3 separate regions of the Homo sapiens genome follow, and all the other regions are linked to region 1. The links come from fine-mapping of genetic effects on gene expression. A gene starts in region 1. Each other region holds a variant in brackets. All regions are shown on one strand. Distances are between the middles of the regions.

What was found.
Region 2: its variant is fine-mapped to the expression of GLB1 in whole blood (TOPMed, PIP above 0.99).
Region 3: its variant is fine-mapped to the expression of GLB1 in whole blood (INTERVAL, PIP 0.91).

The regions. Positions count from the first base shown.
Region 1 is chr3:33,092,465-33,100,645 of GRCh38, forward strand. GLB1 (galactosidase beta 1) reads right to left here and starts at 4,682. Exons shown (of 16, transcript NM_000404.4): 1 at 4,547-4,682. The coding sequence starts at 4,621. TMPPE (transmembrane protein with metallophosphoesterase domain) reads right to left here and starts at 4,682. Exons shown (of 2, transcript NM_001039770.3): 1 at 4,255-4,682; 2 at 1-1,839. The coding sequence starts at 1,731. The coding sequence ends at 370. RefSeq lists a silencer at 4,270-4,879.
Region 2 is chr3:33,147,302-33,155,482 of GRCh38, forward strand. CRTAP (cartilage associated protein) reads left to right here. Exons shown (of 7, transcript NM_006371.5): 7 at 1-472. SUSD5 (sushi domain containing 5) reads right to left here. Exons shown (of 5, transcript NM_015551.2): 5 at 2,742-6,732. The coding sequence ends at 5,441. Among named protein-coding and RNA genes, the nearest start is that of CRTAP, 37 kb to the left of the region's middle. RefSeq lists an enhancer at 5,514-6,713. The variant C/T (reference allele first, on the strand shown) is at 4,051.
Region 3 is chr3:33,036,063-33,044,243 of GRCh38, forward strand. The region is part of intron 10 of GLB1 (galactosidase beta 1); the gene reads right to left. Among named protein-coding and RNA genes, the nearest start is that of GLB1, 57 kb to the right of the region's middle. RefSeq lists an enhancer at 1-584. The variant T/C (reference allele first, on the strand shown) is at 5,019.

The DNA of each region.
Region 1 (8,181 bases):
TCCTCCCCGCCCCACCTTCTAGAGGTATGCCTTTCTAGCAACCCCGAGGGGAGGTTCATCCCTGGGAGCTCTGCAGGAGAAGGTCCCCATTCCACATCATCTGGAAAATAGAGGGGAGTGCTAATATATGTGACCTTAGTGATCTCACAAGTGCATCAAAAAAAGCAACTGGCCAAGGAAATAGTTAAACCAGCCTGAACATGCCAGGCAGGCCCACCATAAGTCACTGTTTGAGTCAGGCTTGTGACCAAGGGTGTGTAGGCAAGGATGAGTGGGCAAGGCTGGAGGGGAAAAGCAGGCAAACCACTCTGAAGCAGGATGGAGGGTCGAGGACAAGGGCAGGGCAGAGGTGCACAGGGCAGGGCCAGTTCAGGGAGACCGCTGCAGGATGAGCTCTGTGATCTCGGCCCTGCTACCCAGCCTCATGGGTATCCCGTAGTAGGCTGTGCCTGGGCTGACATACACGAATGTAGCCTGGGCCACCTGGTAGAGACCAGCAAAGAAGGGATTCAGGAGATAGGCTGCTACGTTCAAGGGGAAGATCTGCCCAGCATGTGTGTGCCCAGAAAGGATCAGGTTAATATCTGGCCGAGCCTGGAGAGCTCTCTTGGCAGCCAGGGGCTGGTGAGCTAGCAAGATGATTGTGTGGTCTGGGCTGCAGCCCTCCAGGGCCTTGTCAAGATCCATGCCATGGCCAGAGTAGTGCAGGATGTCTGCTTCAATATCGTCCACCCCAGCCAAGCAGATCCAGTCCTCATCCTCACTCCCACTGCCACTGCCACCACCACCACGTTGGGCCCGTGTGGCGGAAATCTTCACGTTCTCATTATGAAGAGGCTGGACATGCAGGGATTCCAGAAGTGCAAACCAGTTGCTGACATCTGACGTGTAGTACTCATGATTGCCTGTGACGAAGTAGGCACCGAGATGTGAATGAAGCTGGCCCAGAGGAGCGACAGCCGTCCGCAGGACCGAGGCTTCTGAGTCGGAGAGGTCACCCACAATCACCGTGATGTCTGGTTCCAGCACATTCACCATCCTCACAAACATTTCCATCTTGGTCCTGCCCACTGTGGGGCCCAAGTGAATGTCTGAGAGGAGCACGATCTTGAGGTTGTTCATTGAGGCAGGCAGCTGATGGATGGGCACCTCCACAGTTTTCACAGCCGGGGGCTGCGCGGCATTCAGAATCCCGGCCACGCTGAGCACAGCAGTCACTCCCACTGCCAGGGCAGGCCTGAGCACGAGCTTCCTTGTCTTCTCAAGGCTGCCCACGACCCTACCACTGCGCCAGGCCAAGAGCTGGTAGGCCTGCTCCATGCCGCTGAGGATGAAGAGGAAGAAGAGCATGATGATGTAAGCACCCAGGCAGGAGTAGGCCGCCAAGGAAAAGAGATAGGGCTCTTCGGCCACTAAAAAGAACATGGTAAAGAAACTGGAATGGGCCAGGGCCAGAAATGCCAGAACCACCACCTTCCAAAGCTGAAAACAGGTTGACTCTGCAGCTGGGGAGTGGCAGAGGTTGCTCACTGTGCTGCGCCAAATGTAGAGGGAGCCAATGAGCAAGAGCGAGTTGACAAACAGGGCAAGCTGCAAGCGAAGCAGCCAACGCCAGGCCCTGAGCTCAAGGCTCTCTGCCAGATACGAGCGGGAGGCGATCATGGACACGAAGACAGTGACAGCAGCCAGGGTGGCCTTCGCGCCTAGGGACAGCTGCCTGAAGATGGCCATTTTCTCTGCTCCTAGTAGGCTCCCCCACCAGTTCTGTGCTGGTGGACTCTGGAAATGAGTTCCTTAGAAAGGACAGTGGCCAAGGAGAGGTTTCCAGGTCAACTCCGCCTGCAACCAGGAACCAGCATCAGCTTTGTGGGATATTAGAGTGTCCTTGTACCCATTCAAAACTCAAAGGCCACTTACATCTGCCCAACCCACCTTGAATCCAAGCTACTCAAATACCAGTCAGTTGCTAGCTATACTTTATTATTCAAAAAGAAACTCACAGCATTGTGACATGATGGGCAGTTTTCATTTTCTTACCACATGTTCTATACGTTTAAAGTTTCTCTACAGTAAGCATGTACTTGTTTTATAAAAACATTCCAAATCAGCGGTATTCAAAGTGTGGTCTGGAGAGAGCCCTTCAGGGGTCCAATTAGTCAAAACTATTTTTATTATAATTCCAAGCCATTACTGCCTTTTCCATTCTCACTCTGTCCTGAGGGGGTGGAGTCTTCCAGAGGCTATGTGACATGTGATATGGCAACAGATTTAATGCAGAAATAAACATGAAAATTTGACTGTCTTCTATTAAGAGACATTGAAAGAGATTTGCAGAAATGTAAAACAGTGCAACTCTTCACCCTAAAATTTGGGGAGAAATACTATTGTTTTTCAAATATATATATTGTTTATTAACGTGTAATGATGTAGTATTTCTTAACAAATAGTTTAAAATATTCTCTAGGGCTGGGCACAGTGGCTGACGCCTATAATTCCAGCACTTTGGGAGGCCGAGGCAGGCAGATTACCTGAGGTCAGGAGTTCAAGACCAGCCTGGCCAACATGGTAAAACCCTGTCTCTACTAAAAATTCAAAAATTAGCCAGGCATGGTGGTGGATGCATGTAATCCCAGCTACTCGGGAGGCTGAGGCAGGAGAATCACTTGAACCTGGGAGGTGGAAGTTGTAGTGAGCCAAGATCGTGCCACTGCACTCCAGCCTGGGCAAAAGAGCGAGACTCTGTCTCAAAAAAAAAAAAAAAAAAAAAAAAAGGAATATTCTCTTAATTTCTAGGACAGCTAAAATTTAGTTAAAATTTGAGAACCGCTGGGTCACGAGGTCAGGAGATCGAGACCATCCTGGCTAACATGGTGAAACCCCGTCTCTACTAAAAATACAAAAAAAGAAAAAAATTAGTCGGGTGTGATGGCGGGCGCCTGTAGTCCCAGCTACTCGGGAGGCTGAGGCAGGAGAATGGCGTGAACCCTAAAGAAATGTAAACAAGGAGATAATGGAAAGCTAGACTGCTGGTATCTTTCTTTAGCTGTGGGCACAGAAGCCCAAGAGGGACACCTAGGCACCTGAAATGAGAATTCCTGGGGTGATGCCAGCCTCCCTGTGTGGGCCTCAGGTATGGCAGCCACAGGGCATCCACCCTGACCCAATGACGCTGCACAAGACTGATGAGCTCACATCAGACAGATTGACCCTGTCCACCTGTTCCTGGTTCATAAATCCTTCTCTCTCTCCCTACCCCCACTCCCAGATACTGGTTAAGATCTGCCTTTCCCCTAGCCCCTTACCCTGCCACTGTTCTCCTGAACTGTGCCCCAGTTCCACCTTCCCCAGTGGTTCTCACAGCTGGCTAGCTCTGACTCCTAAGGTCCTACGGGCCTTCTGGACAAGAAAACTCTGTCTACATACTGGGGTAGGGGAACCACAGACGGGGTGAAGAGGGAGCAGCAAATAATCTGTGCTGACTTTTTCCCAAAATGAAAACATTTTCAGCAGCTGTTTTCCAAATACTTAAGATGTTCAATCTTGGTTGTAGATAAATGTACCACTTTTCTCTGCCCTAGGCACGTTATTGAAAGCGTTATTAAAGGGTGTAACTTACAAGTCAACGGTGTCAAATGCTACCAGCTCTTACTTAAAGCATACTGCAGGCTCAGCCCACCTACACCCTGGAGGAACCAAAGTTGGTCCGCGGAACGTGCAGAGGAGCAGCTTGCAACTACCCACTCTCCTTTCCGCAGGTGTGATGCAAACCTCCCCAGGCAGCGCTTTGGAGCCCCTCAGCCAGTCGCCTCAGCTCGGACGCAGCGAGTGAAGCTGTCCTTCCTCTCCCACCAACTGTGCACGCCCCGCACCTCACCTATTCGCCTCGCCAGCCCTGCCCCGATCAACGATGGCATCCCCCGGCAGCCTGCCTATTCCCCCCCTCAACCTGGACCCCCAAACGCCGAAGGAAAACGGTCCCACAAATACAAAGAAAAACCCAAGCCAAAGGGCAGGCGACGGGGAGTGGTGAGAAAGGAACAAGATGCACGAAGAGGGAGAGCACCCAGAGGGGAAATAACCCAATGTTCCCACTGCAAGGGCCTCTCCTGACCCCATTTTTCTCCTTCCGGAGCGCTCCGCAGAGCACCAACTGGGAAAGCGAGGGCGCCCCAAACCAGAGCCGGAGGCACCCTCTAACCCGCGCAACTTGGAATCCCCTCCCGGAAAGCCAACTTAGGAAATGTTTACACGCACCTCGTCTCAACACCTCGTTACAGATGGGGAAGTGGATCCAAGCGCAAAGGGCGGCCGGAGCGGAACGCACAAGCGACCGAGCTGCCTGGAAGGACGCGCGCCCCGCCCGGCCCGCCCCCGACGGGAAGGCCGGTCCACTGCCTGCGTTCCGCCGGCCGCGAGCCTGCTGGGGGGCACTTCGGGGCTCAGGCTCCCCGCCCTGCGGGACCGCGGGTGGCTGCGACCCCAGCCCGGTTCCCCGCCAGCCTGTCCCCTAGCAATGCCTCCCCGTACCCGGGTCCCGCAGACTTACGCGCAAGCCGCGCGTAGGGCCCAGAAGCAGCAGAACCAGCAACAGAGGGAGGATGCGAACCAGGAACCCCGGCATGACCACCAGCCTCCCGGCTCTGCAGTCGGCGCCCAGGCCGGCCGCTTCGCGTCACTTGACTAAGGACCCACGGCCTGGCACCGCCCCTCGTCGGCCCAGCAGCCAGCCCTCGCGCCTGCTCAGCCCCGCGCCCCGCCCCGCTGTGGCCGAGCCGGGCGGGTGGGGGCGGCTAGGAGGCTGCGCGCCGCCGCGTGACTCCAGGATAGTACTATCTGGGTTTTGCAGGCGTCTTCCCTGGGAAGGGACCCTTTGGAACTGCAGTCCGGAGGGCCTGCTTTCAGCAGCTTGATAACGCGCCTCGGGGATTGGACATGAATCATGGTCTCCCTGTTCCCTGGCTGCCTTGAGAGAGCAGAAGAGGGAAATTGTTAATCATTAAACCTAAACGCCCTAGATGGAATCCGCGTCTCATATACGGGCTCTTTGAATAACTCTAAGCCGGGGGTTAGCAAAATGTGGTCGGTCCCTGGAGCCACTGTATCAACTCACCTGGAACTTGTTAGAATGAAAATCCTGCTCACGCCTGTAATCCCAGCACTTTGGGAGGCCGAGGCGGGCGGATCGCCTGAGGTCAGGAGTTCCAGACCAGCCTGACCAGTATGATGAAACCCCGTCTCTACTAAAAATACAAAAATTAGCCGGGCGTGGTGGCAGGCGCCTGTAATCCCAGCTACTGAGGAGGCTGAGACAGGAGAATCGCTTGAACCCGGGAGGTGGAGGTTGCAGTAAACCGAGATCGAGCCATTGCGCTCCAGCCTGGGCAATAAGAGCGAAATTCCGTATCAAAAAAAAATTTTCTTTTTTAAAATAACCTTAGTTTATGCCTTGGTGTTCCAAAAAGCCTTTTTACATTGTATAACAAAGTAGCCAAAATTCTATTTGTTCACTCCTTTCTCCTTTCCTACCGGACATGTCCTTGAGAGATTGAGAAAGTATCAGAAAGGACATTTCATTGAGAGATTGAGAAAGTATCAGTTACTGGCTTTTCTTAGGTTTTTGTTTTTTGGTTTGGGGGGTTGTTTTTTTGTTTTGTTTTTGTGTTTTTTGAGACAGGGTCTCACTCTGTCACCCAGGCTGGAGTGGGGCGCAATCACGGCTTACTGCAGCTTTGGCCTCCTGGGCTCAAGCAATTCTCCCGTCTCAGCCTACCAAGTGGCTGGGACTACAGGCGTGCGCCACCACACCCGGCTAATTTTTGTATTTTTTGTAGAGACAGGGTCTCACCACGTTTCCCAGGCAGGTCTTGAAGTTCTGGGATCAAGCAATCTACCTGCCTGGAACTCCCAAAATGCTGGAATTACAGACATGAGCCACCGTGCCTGGCTTCTTTTCATGCCTGTAGTACCAATTCCGTGTCCTTGCACTGTGAAGTCCTTTCCAAGCTCTGCAATTCTAGTTCAGTATTAAAGAACAAGGGCTCTGGAGGAAGTACACTTGAGTTGGAATTCCAGCTCTGCCACTTACTGTCTGTGTAACTGTGGGCAAATTACTTAACCTCTCTGAGCTTAGTTTCTTTGTTGGTAAAGCAGGGCTAATAATATCAAATTCACTGGATAATTGGGGAAATTACCAGAGATGATGACGATAAGAAGCTTGGTATATACAGGATGTTAGTGGGACAGTTGATGAAATCAGAATTAGACTTGTAGGTTAGATTAGTACCATGCATCAATGTTAATTTCCTTTTTGGGGGGGTGGGGGGACAGAGTCTCACTCTGTCACCCAGGCTGGAGTGCAGTGGCACAATCTCGGCTCACTGCAACCTCCGCCTCCCAGGTTCAAGTGATTCTCCCACCTCAGCCTCCAAAGTAGCTGGGATTACAGGCACCCACCACTAGGCTTGGCTAATTTTTGTATTTTTAGTAGAGATGGGGTATCACCATGTTAGCCAGGCTGGTCTGGAGCTCTTGACCTCAAGTGATTTGCCCACCTCGGCCTCCCAAAGTGCTGGGATTACAGGCATGAGCCACTGTGCCCGGCCGCATCAATGTTAACTTTCTGATTTTGATAATGGTACACGGTCTAAATATTAAATAATAGTTTTGTATTAGTGTATTGATTTGGGTAACGGTAATGGTAATTTTGGTAATGGTTATATAAAAGAACATCCTTGTTTTTTAGGAAACAAAAGGGCATCATCTTTGCAACTGATTCTCAAACAGTTCACAAAAAAAAATGGAGAGAGAGAGAAAGAGAGAGAGAGAGAGGGAGAGAAATGGTATTCCAGGCATGAAAAGAACGTGAGAAAGAAAAGCAAATGTGGTAAAATGTTAACATTTGGAAAATCAATGAAGGAATTATTTTTACTCTTTTTTTCAACTTTTTGTTTCTAAGCCTGAAATTATTGCAGAACGAAGTTTAAAAACAAAACAAAACAAAAATCCTTAACACATGGCAGATTCAACTTCTTCTACCTTCTTTCCTACTCTGTACACTCAGGGTTATCATATGCAATAGGTATTTTTAACTGAACTGAGGTAGAAAGGGTTTAGAGCAGGAGTTGGCAAACTAAGGGCAGAGGATCAAATCTGGCCTGCTGCCTGTTTTTCTTTTTCTTTTTAAAATTCTTTTTACTAAGAATCGGCACAATTTGCTGCCAGTTTTTCTATGGCCTGCCACCTAAAAATGGTTTTTACATTTTTAAATGAATGAAAAAAAATCAAAAGAATAATATTTTATGACATTTGAAAATGTTGTAAGTTTCCTGTGTCAGTGTCCATAAATAAAGTTTTGTGGGGTTGGTTTTTGTTTTTTTTGTTTTGTTTTGTTTTTTTAGACACAGTCTTGCTCTGTCACCCAGGCTGGAGTGCAGTGGTGCAATCATAGCTCACAGCAGCCTTGAACTCCTGAGCTGAAGCAGTCGTCCCATGTCGGCCTCCTGAGTAGCTAAGTAGCTGGGACTACAGGCGAGTGCCACCATGCCTGAATAATTTTTTTTTTTCTAAAGACAAGATCTTGCCTTGTTGCCAGGGTTGGTCTTGAACTCCTGGCCTCAAGTAATCTGCCCACTTTGGCTGCCAAAGTGCCAAGATTACACATAAATAGTTTTCTTAGAACACAGCCACCTATAATCCTCTGCATATTGCATATGGTTGCTTTCACGCTACAACGGTAGAATGGAGTAGTTGCAACACAGATCTTAGGACCTACAAAACTGAATATATTTATGTTCTAGCCCTTTACAGTATAAGCTTGCCAAAGGAATATAGATTGTAGATTGTTTCTGAGATTTTTAGTATTTGACTATGTTTGTAGTTGAAATGGCAATAGTAGTAATAGCCATTGTTGTGCTGAATGCTTTACCAGTATGTGTCACTATTCCTCCCAATCCGAGCTGCATGCTCTTATCCACATTTCACAGATGAGAAAGCTGAGACCCAGAGGAGTTAAATGACTTGCCAGTAGCCACAGAGCTGGGGAGCAGTAGAGTCTCTAAAGTTACATTGCCTGACGTTAGGGCCTGAGTTATTTTCACAAGGCTATGCTTCTGCTCATAGTGTACTGTTTGGTTCCCATTTAAATGCACAGACAGAGTGTGCTGGATGCAAAGCCCCCTGCAT
Region 2 (8,181 bases), 55 kb after region 1:
TTGACTGACCCACTGCTACCCCAGAAATAAGAATCAAGAGCAGCTATTGTTATCCTTAGAGTGTTTTCCGTCTAGGGCCGGCTCGTGAACAGCCACATATCCTTGCACCTGACACTGTCCCCACACAAATAGCTGGCTTTCGTTGCTTGTTGAATGAATGAGTGAGTTGGCTCTATATCCCCTTGGAGCTGGCCGGTAAGATATTAGTGCCTCATTTTACAAGAAGAGAATAGGAAGGAATTAAGCAATTTGGCCAACAGATACAAGATAGATTCCAGAGTTTTATCTCCCACTTTAGGGTGGCAGCCAGTAGGCCAAACTCCAAAGACCGTTGCTGATGTCTTTTTCTGCCTCCCCTCTTTGGGTTAGTGTGGTATGTACAAGCTCACTCTTGTTGAAAATTAGAAAATAGTTGAAAACAAAAGGTTTTTGTTTTTCTTTTTAAATCACATTAAATGTTTTACATTGCTTATTCTCTATTTTCTATTCTATCCACTGGACAGGGATGTCTTCACCACATTCTAGAAGCTATGTTGTAATGAGCTCTGTTTTCTCAGGTCTGTGAAATTTCTGACATTCATCTAACAAAGTAGAAACTTCAAGCCAGGGACTCCTGGATCTCATGCAAGAGGAGTGGTCCTTGCTCTCCATGAGCCAAGAGCTGGCTGAGGTCCTGTCAGGCAGTAGAGGCTCATGCCTCTCCCCCGGAAGATTGTCTTTCAGAGGAGATCTGGAATCCCACTAGGAAAAACATTTGGAATCTGTTTCAAACAGGGACACAAAGCATCTTCAGGCATGACTGTCAACAGCAACTATGCTCCATGCATGCCACTAAAGGGCAGGCAGGAGAAAGAAGAGTAGAAGGAAGCAGGTGGAAAGAGTGAGGAACCAGCCAGCACAAAAAGAAGTCCACGTTATGGAGAGTTGAAACAGCTGTCTGAAGAAGAGGTGGAGGACATGGAGGTCAGCCCAAGAATTCCAGAGGTTATGGTGAAAAAATCTGGACTGAGGAGAGGAGGTGTAGGGAGTAAGAGTTGAGTGTTGATGGATGTCTTAGGTCAGGATCCTTTGAAGCAAGGGAAGTGATGGGGTGCTCTCAAGAGAAGGGGTGTGAGAGAAGCAGGAAGGAGCCAGTAAGGATGTGTCTTCAGTTGGAGACTGACTTCAGCTTGATCTCATGGGAGCTCTGGAGCATGAATCATATCGGAGTTGGTCCCACCTTGAGGAAAGGAGGCCAGCCTTTTGCATTCCCATGACAGCTGGTCATTGGTTATAGGCTGCCCTAGCAGAGTATACCGTGGTCTAACTTCCTGGGTGAGGGAACTCTCAATAGGCCAAGGGCAATTCTCTGCGTTGGAAGGGTACACTTACGTGCTTATGAGCATTTTAACAGCCAACACTCAGGGCAGCTGGAAGACAGGTTCACCTACCTAGCAAAGGGGACCTGGGAGGGGCATCAACAATGTCCACAACATTGGAAGGCTTGGGAGGCATGGATCTGTGGTGGTCATGGATGTAAAAATGGACATAAGGCAGATGGGATTGGTGCTGATGGCGTCTGAGCTGGATTTGCTAGCTGCCCTTCCGTATCTCTTCCAACATGCCCCTCCAACATGCCCGGTGTCCCAGAAGCCTGACCTCTATGGTTCCATTGCCTGGGCTTCTTCACCCTCTGATTTCCAGTTGCCACTGGGACATGCCAACAAGAGATGGCAGGGTGAGACAAGGTCTGGTTCCTTAAAATCTTTGCTTCCTCCAGGCCACAGTTGGACACTGGCTGCATTCTCTTTGAGGCCAGAGCCCTTGTCCTGCAGGGCCTTTCCTATTACTGAGCTCTTGTTGGGTTCCATAACAGGTCCCCACCATCCCCTGATGGTTCCCCTAACTTTCCCCACACCTTTGTGAACAGTCCCTTCAGCTAACCCTCTAATTACTCCTTTGAGTGTCCTGTGAGTTAGGAGAAAGGGGATAATCAGTTCTCTCTTAGGCCAGTGCTTCTCAAGCTTTACCATTCATGCCCACCACCTGGGCATCCTGTTAGATGCAGATCCTGATTCAGCAGTCCTGGGGCAGGGCCTGAGATTCTGTACTTCTAACAAGCTCGCAGTGCCTGTGCTGCTGGGGCAGGAGCCACACTTTGAATAGCGAGGTCCCGGGTGTTTCGTTGCAGTGAAGTAAGTGGTCTCTGGTTGGGGCAAGGAAGAGGGAAGTAGGGGGGGGCGGGGCAAGGAAGAGGGAAGTAGGGAGGGAGGGGGGGGCAAGAGTGCCACCAACTTCCCTAAAATCCTGCTGCAGGAGGTAACATAACTGAGAGTTAGGTTTAGAAAGGGCAGTCTTAGATCTTAGATATAGCAAGTATTAAGACATTATTTTCAAGATTACTAGAGATTTTTTTTTTGAATGGAGCCTTGCTCTGTCCCCCACGCTGGAGTGCAGTGGCATGATCTCAGCTCACTGCAACCTCTGCCTCCCGGGTTCAAGCAATTCTCCTGCCTGATCCTCCTGGGTAGCTGGTACCACAAGCATGCTATCACGCCCGGCTAATTTTTGTATTTTTAGTACAGAAAAGATTTCACCATGTTGGCCAGGCTGGTCTCGAACTCATGACCTCAAGTGATCTGCCTACCTCAGCCTCCCAAAGTGCTGGGATTACCAGTGTGAGCCACTGTGCCCAGCGAGAATTTTTTTCTTTTTTTAAACCTTGGTGCAGTAGCCTAGAAATAAAATACATTCAGCAACTGTTGGGGCAATAATTATTTATTTTAAATATCTCAGAAGCTTTGTGTTAATAGAACCCCCTCCCCCAATTTTCATGAGCATTAAACATTCACCATTCTCAAAACATGCATGACATACAATTTAGATTTACATTGTTTTAATCATTCCCTTTCAACATGAATTTTTAGATTCTATAACATTAATTTAGAGGATACCACACCAATAAGAACTTAAAAACTGATGTGTTGGGTTTATTTCACAGTCCATGTCTACAAATAAAACATTTACCTGTATTAATAATTTGTAATAAATTTATTAATACACTGTATTAATAATTTGTAATAAATTTATTAATACACTGTATTAATATTGCCTATTTGTTGGTATAAATCCAATGTTCTGGGTTATTCCACAATAATAGTTGCTAACACAGTCCCAATGCTGAGACAGAGGTTATTTTATATAGTTAAAAATAGAAAAGTTATCTTGCAGTAGATTAGGATCTAATTTATAAATATATACAGTCTCTGGCTTTTATTCTATTATGTTTTGCTTTGGCTACATGCAGAAAGCATTTTATTCCTATTGTTCTTGACTTCGTCTGATGCACAGGTATTCTAGTTGGTACCTTCAGGCTTTATTTTACCCAACTATGGGGAATAAGATCTTTGATTATGCTGCCTCTCTTTACAGCTACTTCGCCTATTACTTTTCCAAAGCTTGCTGAAAAGAGGTGGCAGGGTAGAAAACATGTTGCGAATGTTTTTTTTCCTTAGGTAAAACACCACCAACAATTTTTCAATCATAAAAAAGATCAGGATTTCCCTCTACCACACAAAAACACTTAGACTGCTATGGTGTCTCAAAATAAATGTGTTGCATTCATCACTTTTTACCACTGATAACTATTTCTAAGAAGGTGATTCATATTAGAAAAATATAACATGTTTCATTTCTGTGCCAACATACAGGAGACTATTGCAGGTGGCATTTAGGCAGCTTCAAATGCCACCTCAGCTGCACACAGCCATGCCTGACTTCCACACAACACACACCACATACTCATCTGTGCCTTTAGGGCTTCAGCTGGCCTCGAAGTTCACATTTGAGATTATTATAAACCAACAGGCTCTCAAACTTGAGTGCATATCAAAATCACCTGGAGGGCTTGTTAAAAACAGAACTGGGCCCTACTCCCAGGGTTCCTGTTTCCTGAGTCCAGGGTGGGACTAGAGAATTTGCATCTCCAACAAATTCCCAGGTGACGCTGATGCTACTGGTCTGAGGACCACACTTTGAGAACCACTGCCATAAACCATCCTCGCTGAGCCA[C/T]CCTAAGATGATTTAGATGCTACGAAATGGGTTACCCAACAGACAGGATGGATTCTGTTTCCACAGAGCTCCCAGTTTCCACACTAGAGAACAGATCAGCACAGATCATTTCATATTCTTTCACAGATTCTTCTGCTTCTCCATCAAGTATGTGCCCATACTTGATAACCTGGTGTTCGGCCCTCTGAAAACATTTCTTTTTTTTTTCTCCCGTGTCATTCTCTCTTACTGGAGTTCAGAGAAATGGTTAATCCTGAGAGAGGAAACCAAGGACTGAGTTTTGTTAGTCCTGGCAAAAATTCCAAGACATTCCTAGGCACAGACTGGTCAAGGACAACTAGGCCACTGCTTCTGAGAGGAAATGGTACTTACTGGTACAAAGCTAACTTTGTTTTTAAAAAATAATGGCAAATCCTTAACCATGAAATATTGAAAATAAAATAAAATAAATGACAGACTGTCCCACAGAATGGAGGGAACAGAGGGGGATGTGTGTTTCTTCACTCCTCAACTCCCCCAACAAAATGTCAGTCTTAAATTCTAATTTCAAGAAACAATGAAAAAAGAAACCTCAAAGCTTCTAGACTGTGTCCTGGCTCTTGGTTCATCTGCCCTCAGCAACATCACAACATTAAAAGGAAACAACCCATTATTCTTCCATATTCCTCTCCCAATAATTCAATATCCATGTCCTAGATAATACTGCTCTCATACACTTGGTTTATCATGACTATTTATAAAATTTCAGGGCATGAAGCTGGTGATTTTCTTTCTTCAAAAAGGTAATACTGTGATGTGGCTCACACCTGGAATCCTAGCACTTTGGGAGGCTAAGGAGGGCAGATCACTTGAGGTCAGGAGTTCTTGACCAGCCTGGCCAACATGGTGAAACTCCATCTCTACTAAAAATATAAAAAAATTAGCTGGGCATGGTGGTGCATGCCTGTAATCCCACCTACTTGGGAGGCTGAGGCAGGAGAATTGCTTGAACTTGGGAGGCAGAGGTTGCAGTGAGCTCAGATCGGGACACTGCACTCCAGCCTGGGCAACAGCATGAGACTCTGTCTCAAAAAAAAAAAGATAATACTGTGATGAAGGAAGAGGCGATTTTTGACCTCACACTGGAAACAGGGCCCAAGCACAGGTCTGGGATTAGTGTAGTCAATTCCAGGGCAGATGGTGGAGGAGACATTGACATGAGTGATGATGTCACCAAAGCCTCCCTGCCCTCCCAGGTGCTCCAGAGACACTTCTCAGCCTATAAAACAAAGGGCTGAGGAAAAAATGATGAGCCTCAGTCCACCTGCGTCATGCTCTAGTGAATTATCGTGTGATGTGTCACAGTTATTTTCCTCCCAAGTGGCTTTGGGAGAACCCACTCCAAAGGTGCCTAGACCTTCTCCATCTCGATCTGCTGGTGGTAGTGCCGAGCCTGCCGCTGGCCAACATTCAGCTTGTACACAGAGCTCTTGTGCTGGCACTTGCGGTAGCCCCACACCATCCCCACACCTGCCAGGAGCAGCAGTAGGCACAGGACGGTGACAATGGTGGCGATCACAGGGCCTCTGCTGAGGCCAGGACATCCGTCCCCCACACACGACTCCAAGGTGGGATGAAGCTCCTCACTTGCACCTGGCCCGGGGCCTTCCTGTCCAAAGAAGTCTTCAGACAGCAGGTATGGGAAGCTATCCTGGATCTCAGGAACAGTGGTTTCTACTGGAGGCTGGGTGGTTGCCATGATCGTTGAGGGGATGTGGTTAGGTGTCTGCTTGACAGTGTTCACTGTTAATATCTCCAGGGTGGAGCTGGTGAGCTCATAGGACAGGGTGGCCATGGGAGATTCCTCTGTGATGAATCTCCAGGGTAGAGTTGACTGGTACTTCGTCAAGTCACCATCCCCAATGCCCTCAGTCTCGGAAGCATTCACGGGTCTGAGCGCCAAAGCTTCCACATCTAGCATTTGAGATGGAAGAACTGAACTATGGGTCATGCCCTCGCTTGGTGTGAGGGTGCTACTCTTGGGCTTCTTAACTTCCACAAGAATGGGCTGATCAGGAGTAACTAGGACGTTTTCATCCAGCCCTACTGACCCATCCCCTCTGTCCCCATCTTCTTCCTCTTCTGCCTCTGTCTTCCTCCAAGCCCCCTCTGTCACAGGGTAGCCATCTAACCAGGACTCATCACTGCTGCTCACCACTGGATCTCCTGCCTTGCTGTCATTCTTGCCCACAAATGGCCCCGAGGGACCATCAGTGTTGCCGTAGATCACCTTGGTTTCAGGTTCACCTGGGACCAATTTTACACCACTGTGGTTGTCTCCAGCAGAAAACTGCTTTTTGGTGTCATCATCCACCTCCTTTTCCAACCCAGGCTTGTGGAAAGCCTCAGCAGGAAACCAGAACAAGTGCTTCTGGAGCAGCCGTGATCCTGGTGAATCTGCGGGGACACTGCTCCCAGCACCAGGCAAGCCTGTGGTTGGCACAAAGACTTTATCCCGGGCTATGTTTTCTCTCCCCACAGAAATGGAGACCAGACGGTCCTGTTTTGGAGCCTCCTCAGAGGAGTCTCCCTGACCCCTGTCCTCATCTGCCTCTGTCCGGGAATCCTCCATGAGCTCTCTGAATGACACAGATCTGTCATCAGGGAAGTTATCTTCATAGTCAATGTGTGCCTCAGCCTCATCTGGAAGAAAAGAGGGAAAAAACCTCATTAGCTCCAAAGGCACAGAGCCAGTATAGAACATAAGAAAAGGAAATTAAAAGCATAAAGGCTGGGACAGAATAAATAATACTGTTATTATTCACAGATGATATGACTGTGTATCATAGATAAACCCAAATAATCTACATATGAATATTACAAGTAACTAAAATTTAACATCTGAGCTTAGGCCGGGCATGGTGGCTCACACTTGTAATCCCAGCACTTTGGGAGGCCTAGGCAGGTGGATCACTTGAAGCCAGGAGTTCGAGACCAGCCTGGCCAACATGGCGAATGCCCATCTCTAATAAAATACAAAAAAATAGCCAGGCATGGTGGCATATGCCTGTAATCCCAGCTACTCAGGAGGATGAGACATGAGAATCGCTTGAACCCGGAAGGCGGACGTTGCAGTGAGCCAACATCGTACCACTGCACTCCAGCCTGGGTGACAGAGTGAGACTCAAAAACAACAACAACAAAAACAACAACTCAAAAACAACAACAACAAAAAACATGTGAGTTTATTAGGGATACTAGGTCTACAGTAAATATAAACATCAATTGTATTTCTAAATATTGTCAATAAACAGAAAATTAAAATTTAAAAGGATGCTATTTACAATAACATTAAAAAAACCAAACACATAGGAATAAATCTAACAAAAGATGTTCAAGACTTCTACATGGAATGATATAAGACATTGCTAAGCAAAATTAAAGAAGACTTAAATGAATGGAGGAATAGACCATGATCATGTAGTAGAAGGCTCAAGATCATTAAGTTGGCAATTCTGTCCAAATCGATCTATACAGATCTAATACAATTCCAATAAAAATCTCAGACATTAACTGAATGTTAAAGTTTATGGAAATGCAATGGATGGAAGTTTATGGAAATGCAATGTAAGAATAGACAAGGCGATATTGAAAAAGAAAAAGCCGGAAGACATATGCAAAACATTTCAAGATTTACTATAAAACTGCATTACCTTTTAAGGCTGTGGTATTGGCACAAGGACAGATAACTGGATTACATTAAAATGAAGATCCTCTGTTCATTAAAAGCTACCACAAAGAGAGTTAAAATGCAAGGCAGAGTTAGAGAAGCTATCTGCAACACATATGACCTCCAAAGGGCTTGTATCCAGAATTTAAAAAGGACTCCCACAAATCTATACTAAGTAGACAGACAAACCATAGAAAAATTGGCAAGATAGTTGACTTGGGACATCACCAGAAAGATATCAGATTAGTCATTAAACATGTGGAAAGATGCTCAACCTCACTAGTAAGAGAGAAATGTTAATTATAGTCATAATGAGATACCACTGCATAGCACCAGAATGGCTAAAATTAAACAGACCGACAATATCAAATGTTAACTAGGATATACAGCACTGTTAGTGGGAGTGTGAACTGGAACAACCA
Region 3 (8,181 bases), 56 kb before region 1:
TGAAAGATCCAAATCAGATTGGAAGTAAGATCCCTTCCTGGCCAGTCAATACTGAAGTTTAAAATTCTTCTGCCTGGCTCTGGTTCCAGAGTGTGACAGTCAGAATGGTCCCAGCAGTGGTTCATAGAGCAGGGCCTCTTAAACAGCTGCATACAGAAGGATTGAGGGTGATGGTGTAAGATTATCCCAGCCATCGATCAGAAGAGCAAGGGAAGGTCAAGAAAAGTGTGTGGAGTTTCAGGGATAGGGGATGGCAGGAAGAAGTAGCTAGAAGTATGAGAGAATAAAAATGTGCTGTTATAATGAGGCCAAAAGTAAAGTGATATTTTATGCAATAAAGCTTATGTAAATATGTGTTTTAAAACTTGATTTGATTTTTTCCACATTAGGAAAGTTCACTATTTCAGAAAGAAAATAATTCTAAAAATAAGCCTACCAGCAACTCCACTTCTAGGTATGTCCCTAGAGGAATGACAAGCAGAGACTTATCCATATTGATATTTGTACTCTGATGTTCAATGCAGCATTATTCAAATAGCCAAAAGATGGAAACAACTGAAATGGTCATCACCAGATGAACAAAATGAATAGGTAATTAAAATATCATATACGCATACAATGGAATATTAAGCCATAAAAAGAAATGAAATTCTGACACGTTACAACGTTGAAAACATTGTGCTAAGTGAAATAAGCCAGATACAAAAGGACCAATATTTTATGATGCCACTTATATGAAATATCTAGAATAGGCAAATTCACAGAGACAGAAAGTAGACTAGGAGCTACTAGAAGCTGAGGAGAGGGTGACTGGGGAGCTATTGCTTCATGGTTACAGAGTTTCTGTCTGGAAGGAAGAAAAAGTTTTGAAAATAGATAATGGTGATGGCTGTATAACATTGTGAATATAACTAATGGCACTGAATTTACATTTAAATATGGTTAAAATGGCAAATTTTGTTTTATATATATTTTACCACAATTAATTTTTTTTTTTTTTTGAGACAGAGTCTTGCTCTGTCACCCATGCTGGAGTGCAGTGGTGTGATCTCAGGTCACTGCAACCTCTGACTCCCATATTCAAGCGATTCTCCTGCCCCAGTCTCCCGAGTAGCTGGAATTACAGGTGTGCGCCACCATGCCAGCCTAATTTTTGTATTTTTAGTGGAGATGGGATTTCACCATTTTGGCCAGGCTGGTCTCGAACTCCTGACCTTAGGTGATCTGCCTGCCTCGGCCTCCCAAAGTGCTGGGATTACAGGTATGAGCCACCACACCTGGCCTAAAAAATTAATAATATAACAAAAAACATTGAATGGTGTACTTTGAATGGGAGAAATGTATGTGAATTATACCTCAACAAATCTGTTTAGAAAATAAATAAACCTGAAGTGGATTGTGAAATGAAGCAATAGTCTATAAAAGAAACAAGTCCACAGGCATTATAATCAAATCAAGTAAATCAGTAGTCCTGGCTGATAGAAGACACCCAAACTAAACATGGAACAGTAACTCTTACCTAGAAAAAACTACAGTGCTCATGTCACACTCTCTGTAACAGGATACCCTTTGGGTCTGGACACCACATAAAAACTAATAGAATGGCAGAATAATACTTCCTCCTTGATTTTCTTGGGAGCAATTGAGCAATGGTGATTACTGCAGCTACTAAAGGGCACTGTCAACAGAGGCTTTGAGCATAAGTGGGCACAAGTTTCCAGGGGAATATTTAACTCTAGTTTGAAATTTTACAATGACATAAGTGAAGAAAAACAGTAATAAAAATAACTGCTATGTATTATTCTCTGAGAAGACATGCTAACCGTATTGCACAGATGTGGAAGGAGGGTACCTTGCCCACTGAGTACTGGAGTCAACACTCAAGTTTTGTTCTGTCTCTCTCCAAAGCTTCTCCAATCTGTGACTCTACCTCTCACACAATACTGGGCGACTCTTCAAAAAAAAAAAAAAAAAAAAAAAAAAAGGCTCAGATTGGTGAGAGAGGTAACAAATTGCATATCTGCCATATCTTTAAAACTTGCTTAAAGATGATTTCATTCTATTTGGAGAAACTCTGGAGTAAGAGGGATGCTTAAAGAGAAAAATTCAAATTTATCTCTTCTGTGAGCCCCTCCAACACAGGACCATGGTAGACTTATCACTCACCTCTAGCATTTAACACGGAAATTGTAAGACTGGTGTTGAATGTTTGTATAATGATTAAGTGGATGATCGACAGATCTCAGAAAAATAATTTGTGAAAGGTTTGCCCTGTGCTCTGAAGGTTAACACCTTTGTGTATAGCAAATTCTGGAGAATCTCTTAGGGAGTAAGTAAATCTCTGAAACTAGGTTTTTGTTGACAAATCTTGCTGTGGAAAACATCTAGAACAATTGTACAAGATGTTTTAAAATATCTTTTTGAAAGCATCAGAAAGCTACCAAAGCAGAAAGGAATTAAGTGGTTACAATTCCAAAAAAATGGAAAATGTCATGATGCAAGTCTGATATTTGTTACTAGTTTTCCCATCAAGGTATTTGTCAATTCACAAGGGCCAACTGAGAGGCTAGAAGCCGAACACAACTTCTGGGAGTCTTCTAGGGCTGAGAAGATAAAAATTGGACTTCAGAGATCAGAACGGAGAAAGAACCCTGGTAAATACTTCAAGCTCTCAGTTGAGACCCCTAAGAAAGTGAACCAGAAGCGGACCAACCCTCAAGAAGACAGAAGCCCACTTTCAAATTAGCTTAATCCCTGATTGCATGAAGATGATCTCTGTCTACTCTAACTGCCTGGTAGAAGTAAAAGTAAATCTCTTTTGGAAGAAAAAACATATATAACCCAAATTATCTCTTTCTTTTTTGTTTTATTGACCTCTAGATGAGAAAAAACCCAACATATAGGAGACAACACTATCTGATCAAAAACGAATAGAAAAAAAAGCCAGGGCCGGGCGTAGTGGCTCATACCTCTAAGCCCAGCACTTTGGGAGGCCGAAGTGGGCAGATCATGAGGTCAGGAGTTCAAGACCAGCCTGACCAACATGGTGAATCCCCATCTCTACTAAAACTATGAAAATCAGCCAGGTGTGGTGGTGCACAGCTGTAATCCCAGCTACTCAGGAGGCTGAGGCAGGAGAATCACTTAAACCCAGGAGGTGGAGGTTGCGGTGAGCTGAGATCACACCACTGCACTCCAGCCTGGGCAACAGAGCAAGACTCTGTCTCAAAAAAAAAAAAAAAAAAAGGAAAAAAAAGCCATTGAAACAGACCCATAAGACATCATGGTATTGGAATAATCTGAAGAAAGCTTAAAATTATGCCAATAGACATACAACAAAAGAAGATGAGGAATTTCAGCAGAGAACTGGAAACAATTTTTAAAATCTAATGGAAGCTCTAGAACTGACAAATGCAATCATTGAAATTGAGTCTATAATATGGGTTTCACTCAGACAGTTGAAAAGAGGATTAATAAACTAGAAGATAGGTCAGAATAAAATCTAAACTAAAATATGTTCGGGGGAAAGGATAGAAACAATGGAAGCGCTTAGGAGATACACAGAACACAGGAAAAAACGTCTAACACACATATCACTGGTGTTCTGAAAGGCAAGGTGGGAGAACGAAGTAAACATAACATTGGATGAGATAACAGCCAAGAATGTTCTAAAATCCACAAAAGAAATAATGCCATAGATTTAGGAAGTTCAAACACCCTCAAACAAGATGTATATAAAGAAAACTATGCATAGGCATACCATAGGAAAATTCCTAAAAATCAAAGATGAAAAGGAAATCTTAAAAGCACTAGAGAAAAAAAGACCTATACCATCAAAGGAAAACCAGTGACAGGTGATTTTTCAAAAGAAATGATGGAGGTCATACATACAAATATGGAATGGTATTTTGAAAATGCTGATTTTTAAGACTGCATAAACTGATAGAAATAAAAAAATAGCCCTAGGAGTAGCTTAGACATAACATCTATCTAAGCTGTTCCTAGATCCTTTACCCTCAGAAACTGTGATATAATAAATATTTGTTATGTTGAGCTACTAGGTTTAGGGGTACTTTGTTACATGGCAATAGGTAGGGAGAAAATAAATCTCCTTTGAAAATTCATATGCACAGTCAGCCCTCTGATATATTTTGTAGCTAAAATTCACACTGCTTCTGTAGTACAAAAAAAATCCCTCAATTTAAGATTTTAATTTAAGGCGTAATGTTCCCTGGTACCTGCCAGAAGCAAATGCTAATTCTCTCTGGAAGAACCCACATTCACCCCAAATCTCAAATAATTCCTAAAGATAAAAGTTCCATGAGTGAGCCCAGGAGTTCAATACCAGCCTAGGCAACATAGTGAGACCCTGGCTCTACAAAAAAAAAATAAAAAATAAATTAGCTAGGCATGGTGGCACATGCCTGTAGTCCCAGCTCCTCAGGAGGCTGTGGCAGGAGAATCACTTGAGCCCGGGAGGTTGAGGCTGCAGTGAGCCAGGACTGCACCACTGCACTCAGCCTGGGCGAGAGTGAAACCCTGTCTCTAAGAACAATGACAACAACAACAACAACAAAAAGTTCCAAGAAATTCAGCTCAGTCAAAATCACAACACACACGCAGAAACAAGACACCATGAACAAGAGGTCACAGAAACAACAAAAGGCAGAATGAGACAAAGAAAGACTCTGCATACTGAAATGATCAAATAGAGATATATAACAGAAGTATCTCTAGTATGTTTAAAGAAATAAAAGAAGAACATGTATACATAAGGAAAAAGCAAGAGAATTTAAAAATGGCTGAGTAAAATTCGAACTGCTAATGTGAACTTATAGAATGAAAAATATAATTTAATAATTCAATGGAAAGGTTTTAATCTTAGAATTTATAGCTACTAAAGAGAAAGCAACAATTGAAGAACATATTTCAAGACAATCAGAATGCTGCACAGAGAAAAAGAGATTACGAGCTGTGAAGGCTAGAATCAGAAGGTCTAACAAATTATCTAATAGAAA[T/C]AAATATTTGAAGACATAATGGCATAAACTTTTTAGGACTAGTGAAAAAAGATACCAAGCCACAAGTTCCAAAACTACCAAGCAGGATAAACGAAAAGAAAGTCACACTTAGATTCATCACAGAGAAACTATACAGCGTCAAATATAAAGAGAAAATCTCAGAAGCTGTCCAAGAGGAAAGATAGATTATCTTCAAGAGAGTGACAGAGTACAGTAAACTGACTTCTCAGCAGCAACAATAAAAGCCCAAAGTCAGTATGCTGAGAGAAAACTATCAGTTTAGAAAAACTACAATTTGAGGCCGGGCATGGTGGCTCACACCTGTAATCCCAGCACTTCGGGAGGCTGAGGCAGATGGATCATCTGAGGTCAGAAGTTCAAGACCAGCCTGGTCAACATGGTGAAACCCCATCTCTACTAAAAATACAAAAATTAGCCAGGTGTGGTGATGCACGCCTGTAATCCCAGCTGCTTGGGAGGCTGAGGCAGGAGAATCGCTTGAAGCTGGGAGGCAGAGGTTGCAGTGAGCCAAGATCTCACCACTGCACTCATTCTGGACAACAGAGTGAGACCCTGTCTTCAAAAAAAAAAAAAAAGAAAGAAAGAAAAGAAAAACTGCATTTTGAAAATGAGGGTGAAAAAAAAATTTTCAGACAAAGAAGAATTAATATAACTTGCTTACTAAATGAAATTCTAAAGAATATACTTCAGGCAGAAGAAGCAATAGAAGATAAAGAAAAGTGTGGTCCTGGGACAAAGGTACCAGACCTTTGTCTCAAGCTGTGCATTCATATATCCACTGCCTACTCTACATCTCCACTAGTACATATACTAGACAAGTCTAACTTTGCACAGCCAAAACTGAACTCCTGATCTTCCCCCCACATAAATGGTAACTCTGTCCTTCAAGTTGCCATTTAAAACACTTTAGAGTCACCCGACTCTCCTCTCTTTCATACTCCCCATCTGAAAATTATATTAGCACTAGTTTCATAATATATTCTGAAACTGCCTAGTTCCTACTACCTTCATAAGCCACAATCACCTCTCACTGAGATGGCTGCAAAAACTTTCTAACTGGTCTTCCTACTCTACCCTTGCCGCACCTCCCAGGGTCTAATCTCAACACAGCAGCTGGAATCTGCTTTAATAGAATGCTTTAACAACGGCTCTGCTCAACTCCTCAATGGATTCCCATTACATTCAGAGTAAAAGCCAAAGTCTTATAATGGCCTGTAATGCTCCATGTGATCTGTTCCCCATCTATATCCCTGACCCCTCATCTCCTCCTTTTTTTTTTTTTTTTTTTCCAAGTCTCGCTCTGTCGCCCAGGCTGGAGTGCAGTGGCGTGATCTCGGCTCACTGCAAGCTCCACCTCCCGGGTTCACGCCATTCTTCTGCCTCAGCCTCCGGAGTAGCTGGGACTACAGGCGCCCGCCACTATGCCCGGCTAATTTTTTGTCTTTTTAGTAGAGACGGGGTTTCACTGTGTTAGCCAGGATGGTCTCGATCTCCTGACCTCGTGATCCGCCCGCCTCGGCCTCCCAAAGCGCTTGGATTACAGGCGTGAGCCACCGCGCACAGCCTCTCCTACTTCTTACCCCTTCATTTACTGGGCTCCAGCCACACTGGCCTCCTTGCTAGTCTTTAAAAATGCCATATACCTTCCCAAGTTCTCACTGGCTGCATTCTGCCTGGAATGCTCTTGTCCAGGCGGAGATATGCCACATGGCTCTCTCACCACCTTAAAATTTTTGTTTGAGCTCCACCTTTTCAGGAAAGCCTACAGCCACCAAGCACCTAAAACTGCAACCTGGCGCATGCAGAGTACTTGATGAATGTTTGTTAAATCATTTGCCAATAAATGAACTATGTGGGTCAAGTGAAATACTATCTGAAGCCATTGTAGTAATGCCCCATGGGTTTTATTTTTTAAGGAGAGAACTAAAATACATGAAAACTAAACCCAGAGAATTAAAATACATGACAATAATAACATACAAATCAAGAGGGCTGTAATTGGAGTTACAGTAAGTTAAAGAGGGATGCAATATGGAGAAAGTAAAGATATTGATTAATTTTAAACTATTACAAGACAGCCAGACACAGGAGTGTATATTGTAGGAACTTGCTGCCTAAAAACGAGCAAAATGAATCTCTGGTGATAGAGGTGAGGACAGCTGTGAGCTCAGGAATGGGTATGTGTGTCAATGACTAGAGAGGGACATTAGAGGGGCTTCCGGGGAGCTATGTGTTTGTCACAGGGCTGCGCTCCCGTTGCCTAAATTCACTGAGCTGTGTACTACGAGTTGTTCTTTTCTGGGGGTATAGATGTCACACTTAAATGGTAACCACTAAAAAAATTAGAATGCAGTGAATAACTTCCAAAGTAGAAGAGGGGGGAAAGAAATAAGAGGAAAAAACAAAACAAAACAAAAAACCTCAATCTAAAAGAAAGCAATAAAGGGAAAGAAAGAGCCAAAAAGGTAAACGAATAGAAATTATAAAATAAGATAATTGAAATTCATCTATGTATATCAAGAAGTACAATGAATGAGAATGTATAAATATATCAGTTAAAAGACAAGAAATTTCAAACTAGATATTTTAAAAATTCGATTATATCCTGTTTATAAGGGACACATGTAAACAGAACAAAGGATATAAAAAGGATGAAATTACAGCATTGGGAAAGATACCTCAGAAAAATACCAAGCAAAAGTATGCAGGTAAATGGTGTTAATGAATAACAGACCAAAAAAAGAAAAAAAAAAAAAAAAAAGGCTTCCAGGCAAAAAGCCTTATTAGAAATAGAGGGTTATATAATCCCTTTACTATTAAGTACTGAAGGATGTAATTCTCAATTTGCCCACCTAATAACATAACCTCAGAACTGGCAGAGCTACAAAGGGAAATACATGAGGACAACTCTCACTAAATAGTAGACTGAACTGACAAAAAATTAGGAAGCAGATCAAAGATATCAATGGCACCATTAATAAACTTAATCTGATGAACATGTATGTAGAATATAGTCAACAACTGTAAAATATACTTTCTTTTTATGCGCACATTGACCATTAATATTGGTGTATGTCAGGCTCTAAGACTAGGCTCAGCAGCTTTCAAGGGATTGGTATCACAGACTATATTCTCTAACCAG